Homo sapiens: one gene and its partner. The protein of the gene in region 2 purifies or fractionates together with the protein of the main gene of each other region. This does not show direct contact. Each region holds a gene or a part of one and is shown on either strand. Other genes may lie near its edges.

Region 1 (3,500 bases), on a different chromosome or scaffold from region 2:
CTCCCAAAGTGCTGGGATTACAGGCGTGAGCCACCGTGCCCGGCCAATAGCCTCTTTTTAAAGGCTAGCATTGTGTCAGTTGGATAGTTGGTGGCTGACCCCTGTCCTTAAGCACACAGCCCCCTTTCCTAGCCTCTGATAACTCAATAAAATGCAGTCCTGCAAAGGGGTAGCTGTTTGCTAATGATCTCAGTTTCATCATTCTTACCACTATTATAATTTTGAGACTTGGCTTTTTTGTGTATTTCAGGGCAGGTGACATTACGGAGTTAAAAATTCTGGAGATACCAGGACCTGGAGACAACCAACATTTTGGAGACCTTCATCAAACAGAATTAGGCCCCTCTGGTGCTGGCTGCCAAGTGGGCATCAATCAGAATGGCACAGGCAAGTTTGTCAAGAAGCCAGCCTCTTCCAGCAGTGCCCCTCAGAATATCCCTAAGAGGACAGATGTGAAGAGCCAGGATGTTGCCGTTTCCCCGCAGCAGCAACAGTGCTCAAAGAGCTATGTCGACAGGCACATGGAATCCTTGAGTCAGTCCAAAAGTTTCCGTCGTCGGCACAACTCCTGTAAGTAGGGTCAAGTTGATATTTCTTCTCAATCTGGTGTTTCAGGGCTATAAGCCATAAGCACTGCTGCTCTTTAAACAAATCCTTTGTTATTCCAATAAAATGGATGCTGGCTGAGCGTCACAGAAATACAACATGGTTCTCTTCCTCCAGGCCTCATTCCTCAAGATGTTAAGGGAAAGGAAATAAGCTGTTAGGGATGCCTGTGAGCTTCCTGCCCTCTCTTACCACTTCCTTCAGGAAAAGTCTGCCCAGAGTTTACTAACAGTGATGTTTTAAATCCAGGAACTACTGGGCGTGGTGGCACGCATCTATAGTCCCAGCTACTTGAGAGGTTGAGGCAGGAGGATTGTTTGAGCCCAGGAGTTCAAGGCTAGTCTGGGCAAAATAGTGAGATTCTGTTTCTGAAAAAGAAAAAAAAAAAAACTTAAATCCTGTTACTGATGTTGGTAGTAGTGTTTGAGTTGAACCTGCACTTGGGCTGTTCCAGAGGATTCTTGAGTAACTTTTCTTCCTGTGATTTGAGTCTCATCCTCAGAAGAGAGGAGGGGACTGATCCAAACATCTCTGTGATCTTTGATTTTCTAGCAGACAATTTTTAATTTGCTGTATTTGTTCCTACTGACACACCAAGAAGAATGTGCATTGGTCTCTGTTGCTGCCCAGTTTTGTTTGATACTAACACATTATTAAATGCCATTTGCTGATTATAAAACCATAGTTGTGACCAGGCACGGTGGCTCACACCTGTAATCCTAGCACTTTGGGAGGCTGAGGCGGGCAGATCACCTGAGGTCAGGCGTTTGAGGCCAGCCTGGCCAACATGTTGAAACCTCGTCTCTGCTAAAAATACAAAAATTATCCGGACGTGGAGGTGCATGCCTGTAATCCCAGCTACTTTGGAGGCTGAGGCAGGAGAATCCCTTGAACCCAGGAGGCAGAGGTTGCAGTGAGCTGATATTGTGCCACTCCAGCCTGGGCGATAGAGCGAGACTCTGTCTCAAAAATAAAATAAATAATATAAAATAAAACCATAGTTGTGTTGGTGGTATGATGGTGAGCATAGCTGCCTTCCAAAACCATAGTTAATTCACTAGAACTGTTCTTCTCCAACATATTTACTAGAATAATGTTACAATAGCGAATCATAACATTCACTGGAATCTGTTATGCTCCTTAAATTAATATGAATGTTGTTTTAAAAAATTACTTCCAAATGCCAAACTATTCTTATTTTACTTAGATGGTTTTGTACTCACAGATGGTAGCAGAATGTATTAGAAATTTTAAGTGAGAGGCTGGGTGCAAGTGGCTCACACCTGTAATCTCACTACTTCAGGAGGCTGGGGCAGGTGGATCGCTTGAGCCCAGGAGTTCGAGACCAGCCTGAGCAACATGGCAAAACCCCATCCCTACAAAAAAAAAAAAAAAAAAAAAAAAAAAATTAGCTGGGCGTGGCAGCGTGCACCTGTGGTCCCAGCTACTCAGGAGGCTGAGGTGGAAGGATGGCTTGAGCCAGGGAGGCGGAGGTTGTGATTAGCCAAGATCATGCCACTGCACTTCAGCCTGGGTGACAGTGTGAGACTGTCTCAAAATGAACAACCAAAAGAAATTTTAAATGAGTATTCATTAACTCATTTAAAATTATAAGCTAGAGTCATGCTATGGCAATACCTTCTAAAAGGCACAATTTAGAGTGAGCTAGGTCTCTCTAGACCCCACTCAGAAAGTTTATTACATAAAATTCCGGATACTTCTTGCTACCATTGTTGCTCCTCACACTGTGGTCCTGGTGGCAATGTAGTAAGGTTTTAGTGTGCTGGGTGAATTCTATTAGTAGCTTGTGGTGTGACACCTGTGTCAGGGGCCAACATTTTAAGTTTTGGAGATGCCTGATTCAAGTGAATAAACAACTAAATTAAAACTAATTTTTTTTTTTTTTTGAGATGGAGCCTTGCTCTGTTGCCCGGGCTGGAGTGCAGTGGTGTGATCTTGGCTCACTGCAACCTCCACCTCCCATGTTCAGGTGATTCTCCTGCCTCAGCCTCCCTAGAAGCTGGTACTACAGGCACTTGCTGCCATGCCCGGCTAATTTTTTTTTTTTTTTTTTTGAGACAGAGTTTCGCTCTTATTGCCCAGGCTGGAGTGCAATGGCGTGATCTTGGCTCACCGCAACTTCCGCCTCCTGGGTTCAAAAGATTCTCCTGCCTCAGCCTCCCGAGTAGCTGGGATTACAGGCATGTGCCACCACGTCTGGCTAATTTTGTATTTTTAGTAGAAACGGGGCTCCATGTTGGTCAGGCTGGTCTCAAACTCTCGGCCTCCCAAAGTGCTGAGATTACAGGCATAAGCCACTGCGCCCGGCTAATTTTTGTATTTTTAGTAGAGATGGGATAATGCCATGTTGCCCAAGCTGATTTCGAACTCATGACCTCAGTTGATCTGCCTGCCTCGGCCTCCCCAAGTGCTGGGATTACAGACGTGAGCCACTGCACCTGGCCTAAAAAAATGTTTTAATGTATGTAATATACAGTTTCAAGGTAGTTTCCTTTGGTGCATATGAAACAACTATCTGAAATGACGATGTTTGCAAATATGAGACTGAAATTCAGTTGTGACTTCTGTATCCTTAGAAAAACTGTAGAATGCTTGGATAGAAAATGATTCTTTCCATTTAGACTTTAACCTTTTTCTTTCTTTCTTTCTTTCTTTCTTTCTTTCTTTCATTCATTTTTGAGACAGGGTCTTGCTTTGTCACTCAGGTTGGAATGCAGTGATACGATCACAGCTCACTACAGCCTTGAACTCCCAGGCTCAAATGATCCTCCCACCTCAGCCTCCTGAGTAGCTGGGACTACAGGTGTGTGCCACCATACCTGGCTAGTCTTTTTACTTTTAGTAGAGACAAGGTCTCACTATGTTGCCCTGTC
Region 2 (3,500 bases):
ATCTTGGTGCTCTCCAGGTGATGTGTTGGTGATATGGGGTCACTAAGTGAAGACAGGTTTCCAGGTAGAACATAGTTTTTGCTCATTTTTCTCTGGGTGTCCAGGGTCGCCATCCCTACTCCTACTCTGCCTTGTGGAATTCTTCCCTCAAAGGTTTTAAGCGTCTTAAGTGCTTCTCACATTCCCAGATAAGCCTTGGTGCTCTACCTGGGATGCAGTCGGTGCCCGTTACCCAGATGTTGAAGGGATTAAATACTTCCATGCCTGAACTGGTGATTGGACTTGTTGAAATGTTTTTCCTTTTTTCCTCTTTTGTCCCCTGGCACTGGGATGGTGGTGGTCTGTGGGTGCTGTCTCAGGGTGCCCTTAGAAAAGGACAACTCAGAAGAGTTTCGTCAGCGAGAGCTGCGTGCGGCCCAGTTGGCTCGAGAGATTGAATCAAGCCCCCAGTACCGCCTACGGATCGCCATGGAGAACGACGATGGGCGCACTGAAGAGGAGAAGCACAGTGCAGTCCAGCGGCAGGGCTCAGGGCGGGAGAGCCCCAGCTTGGCATCCAGGTGACTGTTGCAAACAGCCAGGACTACTTGGGGCTTCTGGGAATATCCTGGGGCCTGGGCCCAGAGTTGATGAGTGCTGTGGTTTAAGCCTTGTGACCATGTAAAATGTCATACACAGGTTTAGGAGGTTGAGGTAAAGCGAGATTATGTAATTTGCCTAAAGTAACAAAGCTGGAGCTTGTAGATCTAAAAAAAAAAAATTCAAAATTTATGTGCTATTTCTTTTTATAAAAGTGAAATATAACTACATTATTTGTGTCTTTTAAAAACTATCCCTGGAACTACGGTGTGATCCTACTTTTGTCATAGGTCAGGAGTTGTAGAATTGTGGAGCACTGGCCAGGTTGGTTGGCTCAGAGTTGATGTCACATGAGGTCATAAGTCCGTAGCCACAGAACGTTAAACTAGGGCAGATCTTCAAGTGGGATGGTGCTGGAGCCAGGCAGTGTGTGTATGTTTGGGGGCAGAAGGGGGAGACTTTAGAAGAAGAAATGGCTTCATCTTTCCAAAACGTGGGTTTTGTGGCTACCTGGCCTTATTTGAACTCTTTCCTCAGGGAGGGGAAGTATATCCCTCTGCCTCAACGAGTCCGGGAAGGTCCCCGGGGAGGAGTTCGATGCAGCAGCTCTCGGGGCGGTCGGCCTGGCCTTAGCTCTTTGCCACCTCGTGGCCCTCACCATCTGGACAACAGCAGCCCTGGCCCAGGTTCTGAGGCCCGTGGTATCAATGGAGGTGAGTTATGAGGTGACTTTGAGGAAGAGGGCAGGGAAGGGGATGCCAAGGAGGTGGGAGGGTAATTGGAGGGGTTTGGGTGTGTTGGAATGACGCTGCATCGGTGGGAATGTAATAGGTCGTCTGCCTCCTGACATTTTCTTCTCAAAAAAAAAAAAAAAAACCAAACAGGCCCTTCCCGCATGTCCCCAAAGGCACAACGGCCTCTGAGAGGTGCCAAGACTCTGTCTTCGCCCAGTAATAGGCCTTCTGGAGAAACTTCTGTTCCACCTCCTCCTGCAGGTAAAGCTTTAGTAGTGTTGGATGAAGAAATGGATGGAAATTTGTAAAGAGATGTAAATATGTCCATTTGTTACAGTGCTGGAATGGGAGATAATTTTAAGATAGATGTTTTGGGCATTTGGGATTTAGTCATATTGGGAAATAGTTCTTCGATTTCCCTAGTGCAGAAATCTCAACCTAGCAATCCATGGGTTGTGTCTGCTTGGCAGACATCTTTTGTTTAGATTTGAATCAGTTGCTAAGTTTTGTTTTGTTTTGTTTTTTTCTTTTTTTGAAACGGAGTCTTGCACTGTTGCCTGGGCCAGAGTACGGTGGCGCCATCTCAGCTCACTGCAGCCTCCACCCCTCAGATTCAAGCCATTCTCCTGTCTCAGCCTCCCAAGTAGCTGGGATTACAGGCACCCACCACCACGGCTGGCTAATTTTTTTGTATTTTTAGTAGAAGCGGGGTTTTATTATGTTGGCCAGGCTGATCTCGAACTCCTGACCTTGTGATCCTCCCACCTTGGTCTCCCAAAGTGCTGGGATTACAGGCGTGAGCCACCACACCCTGCCAGTTGCTAACTTTTTAAAACAGGCCGAGGTAGGCAGATTGCTTGAGCCCAGGAGTTTAAGACCAGCCTGGGCAACACGGCAAAACCCTTCTGCAAAAAATAAAAAGATTAGCTAGGCTTGATGGCGTGCACCTGTACTCCCAGCTACTTGCGAGGCTGAGGTGGGGGGAATCGCTTGAGCCCAGGAGGCTGAGGTTGCAGTGAGATGGCATCACACCATTGCACTCCAGTCTGGGGAACAGAGCGATACCCTGTCTCTAAATAAATAAATCAATAGAAGCCATAGAAAATTTTTAGTTTCTTTTGAATTACAGGAAATTCTGTCAACTGAGCTTGCCTTGCTGCGTAGCTTGAGTTGACTGGAACAGAATCCCTGCCACTCCTTTAAGCATTCCAGTTGTCGATGATGCCCATGAGGCCATTTACCTGCTTGTGTTACCTGCCTTGAGCTTCTAGACATTTAAGTTGGTGACTCTGGTTGTATAGTGTGTAAACTTTCTTGCTGTTTTGAGTAAGGCCCTTGTACTCACTGCTGTTGACCAGCAGTAACCATCCTACAGCTCCCCCTTTTCTTCCAGTGGGCCGGATGTATCCCCCGCGTTCTCCCAAGTCTGCTGCCCCTGCCCCAATCTCAGCTTCCTGTCCAGAGCCTCCCATCGGCTCGGCAGTGCCAACCTCTTCAGCCTCCATCCCTGTGACCTCATCAGTCTCAGATCCTGGAGTGGGCTCCATTTCTCCAGCTTCTCCAAAGATCTCCCTGGCCCCCACAGATGGTAAGAGCTAGGTGTTTGAGTGCTGTGAATGCATATTTAGTGTGATTTGTGGTTCTGGACAGAAGGACCTTTAGGCATTTCTCTTTACTTGAACAGTAAAAGAACTCTCTACCAAGGAACCTGGGAGAACTCTGGAGCCCCAGGAGCTGGCTCGGATAGCTGGGAAAGGTGAGGGTGGTTTTTTTTCTGCTGAGGATTAATGCTCCTTTGTCTGGGGGAGAGTATTTCAGTTAGGAAGTTTGTTGGAATTCAGAGGCAAACAATGTCTATCAGTCCTTGGATTATAATTTCACTTCTGTGATCCTCAAGAGTTTCTCTTTTTTCTTTGCTTTCTTGTCCTCTGTTCTTTTGGCACTGTGTAGCCACCTTAGAGAAAGAATGTTTTGTATTTTCTTCTTTTTGACTGTTTTCTCATAGTCCCTGGTCTTCAGAATGAACAGAAACGATTCCAACTGGAAGAACTGAGAAAGTTTGGGGCCCAGTTTAAGGTGAGAGAAGAGTGAGCTGGGATATTAGCAGGGTAAAGGGGTTGGGAGTGGTTCGTAGATGAGGCAAAGGACTAGATAGGAGTCAAAGAGATGAGATCAAAAAAGGATGAA

What was found. The genes of interacting proteins can lie anywhere in the genome.
Region 1: the proteins of ATXN2L (region 2) and EDC3 purify together in Homo sapiens (affinity purification with mass spectrometry, with the first as the bait; one large-scale study listed by BioGRID). This does not show direct contact.

Annotation. Positions count from the first base shown.
Region 1 is NC_000015.10:74,668,525-74,672,024, reverse strand, and holds part of EDC3 (enhancer of mRNA-decapping protein 3), read left to right. Parts: intron 1-250; coding exon 251-570; intron 571-3,500. UniProt on the Homo sapiens protein: Binds single-stranded RNA. Involved in the process of mRNA degradation and in the positive regulation of mRNA decapping. May play a role in spermiogenesis and oogenesis.
Region 2 is NC_000016.10:28,829,499-28,832,998, forward strand, and holds part of ATXN2L (ataxin-2-like protein), read left to right. Parts: intron 1-359; coding exon 360-560; intron 561-1,116; coding exon 1,117-1,292; intron 1,293-1,463; coding exon 1,464-1,574; intron 1,575-2,688; coding exon of another isoform or gene 2,689-2,706; coding exon 2,707-2,901; intron 2,902-2,997; coding exon 2,998-3,069; intron 3,070-3,318; coding exon 3,319-3,389; intron 3,390-3,500. UniProt on the Homo sapiens protein: Involved in the regulation of stress granule and P-body formation.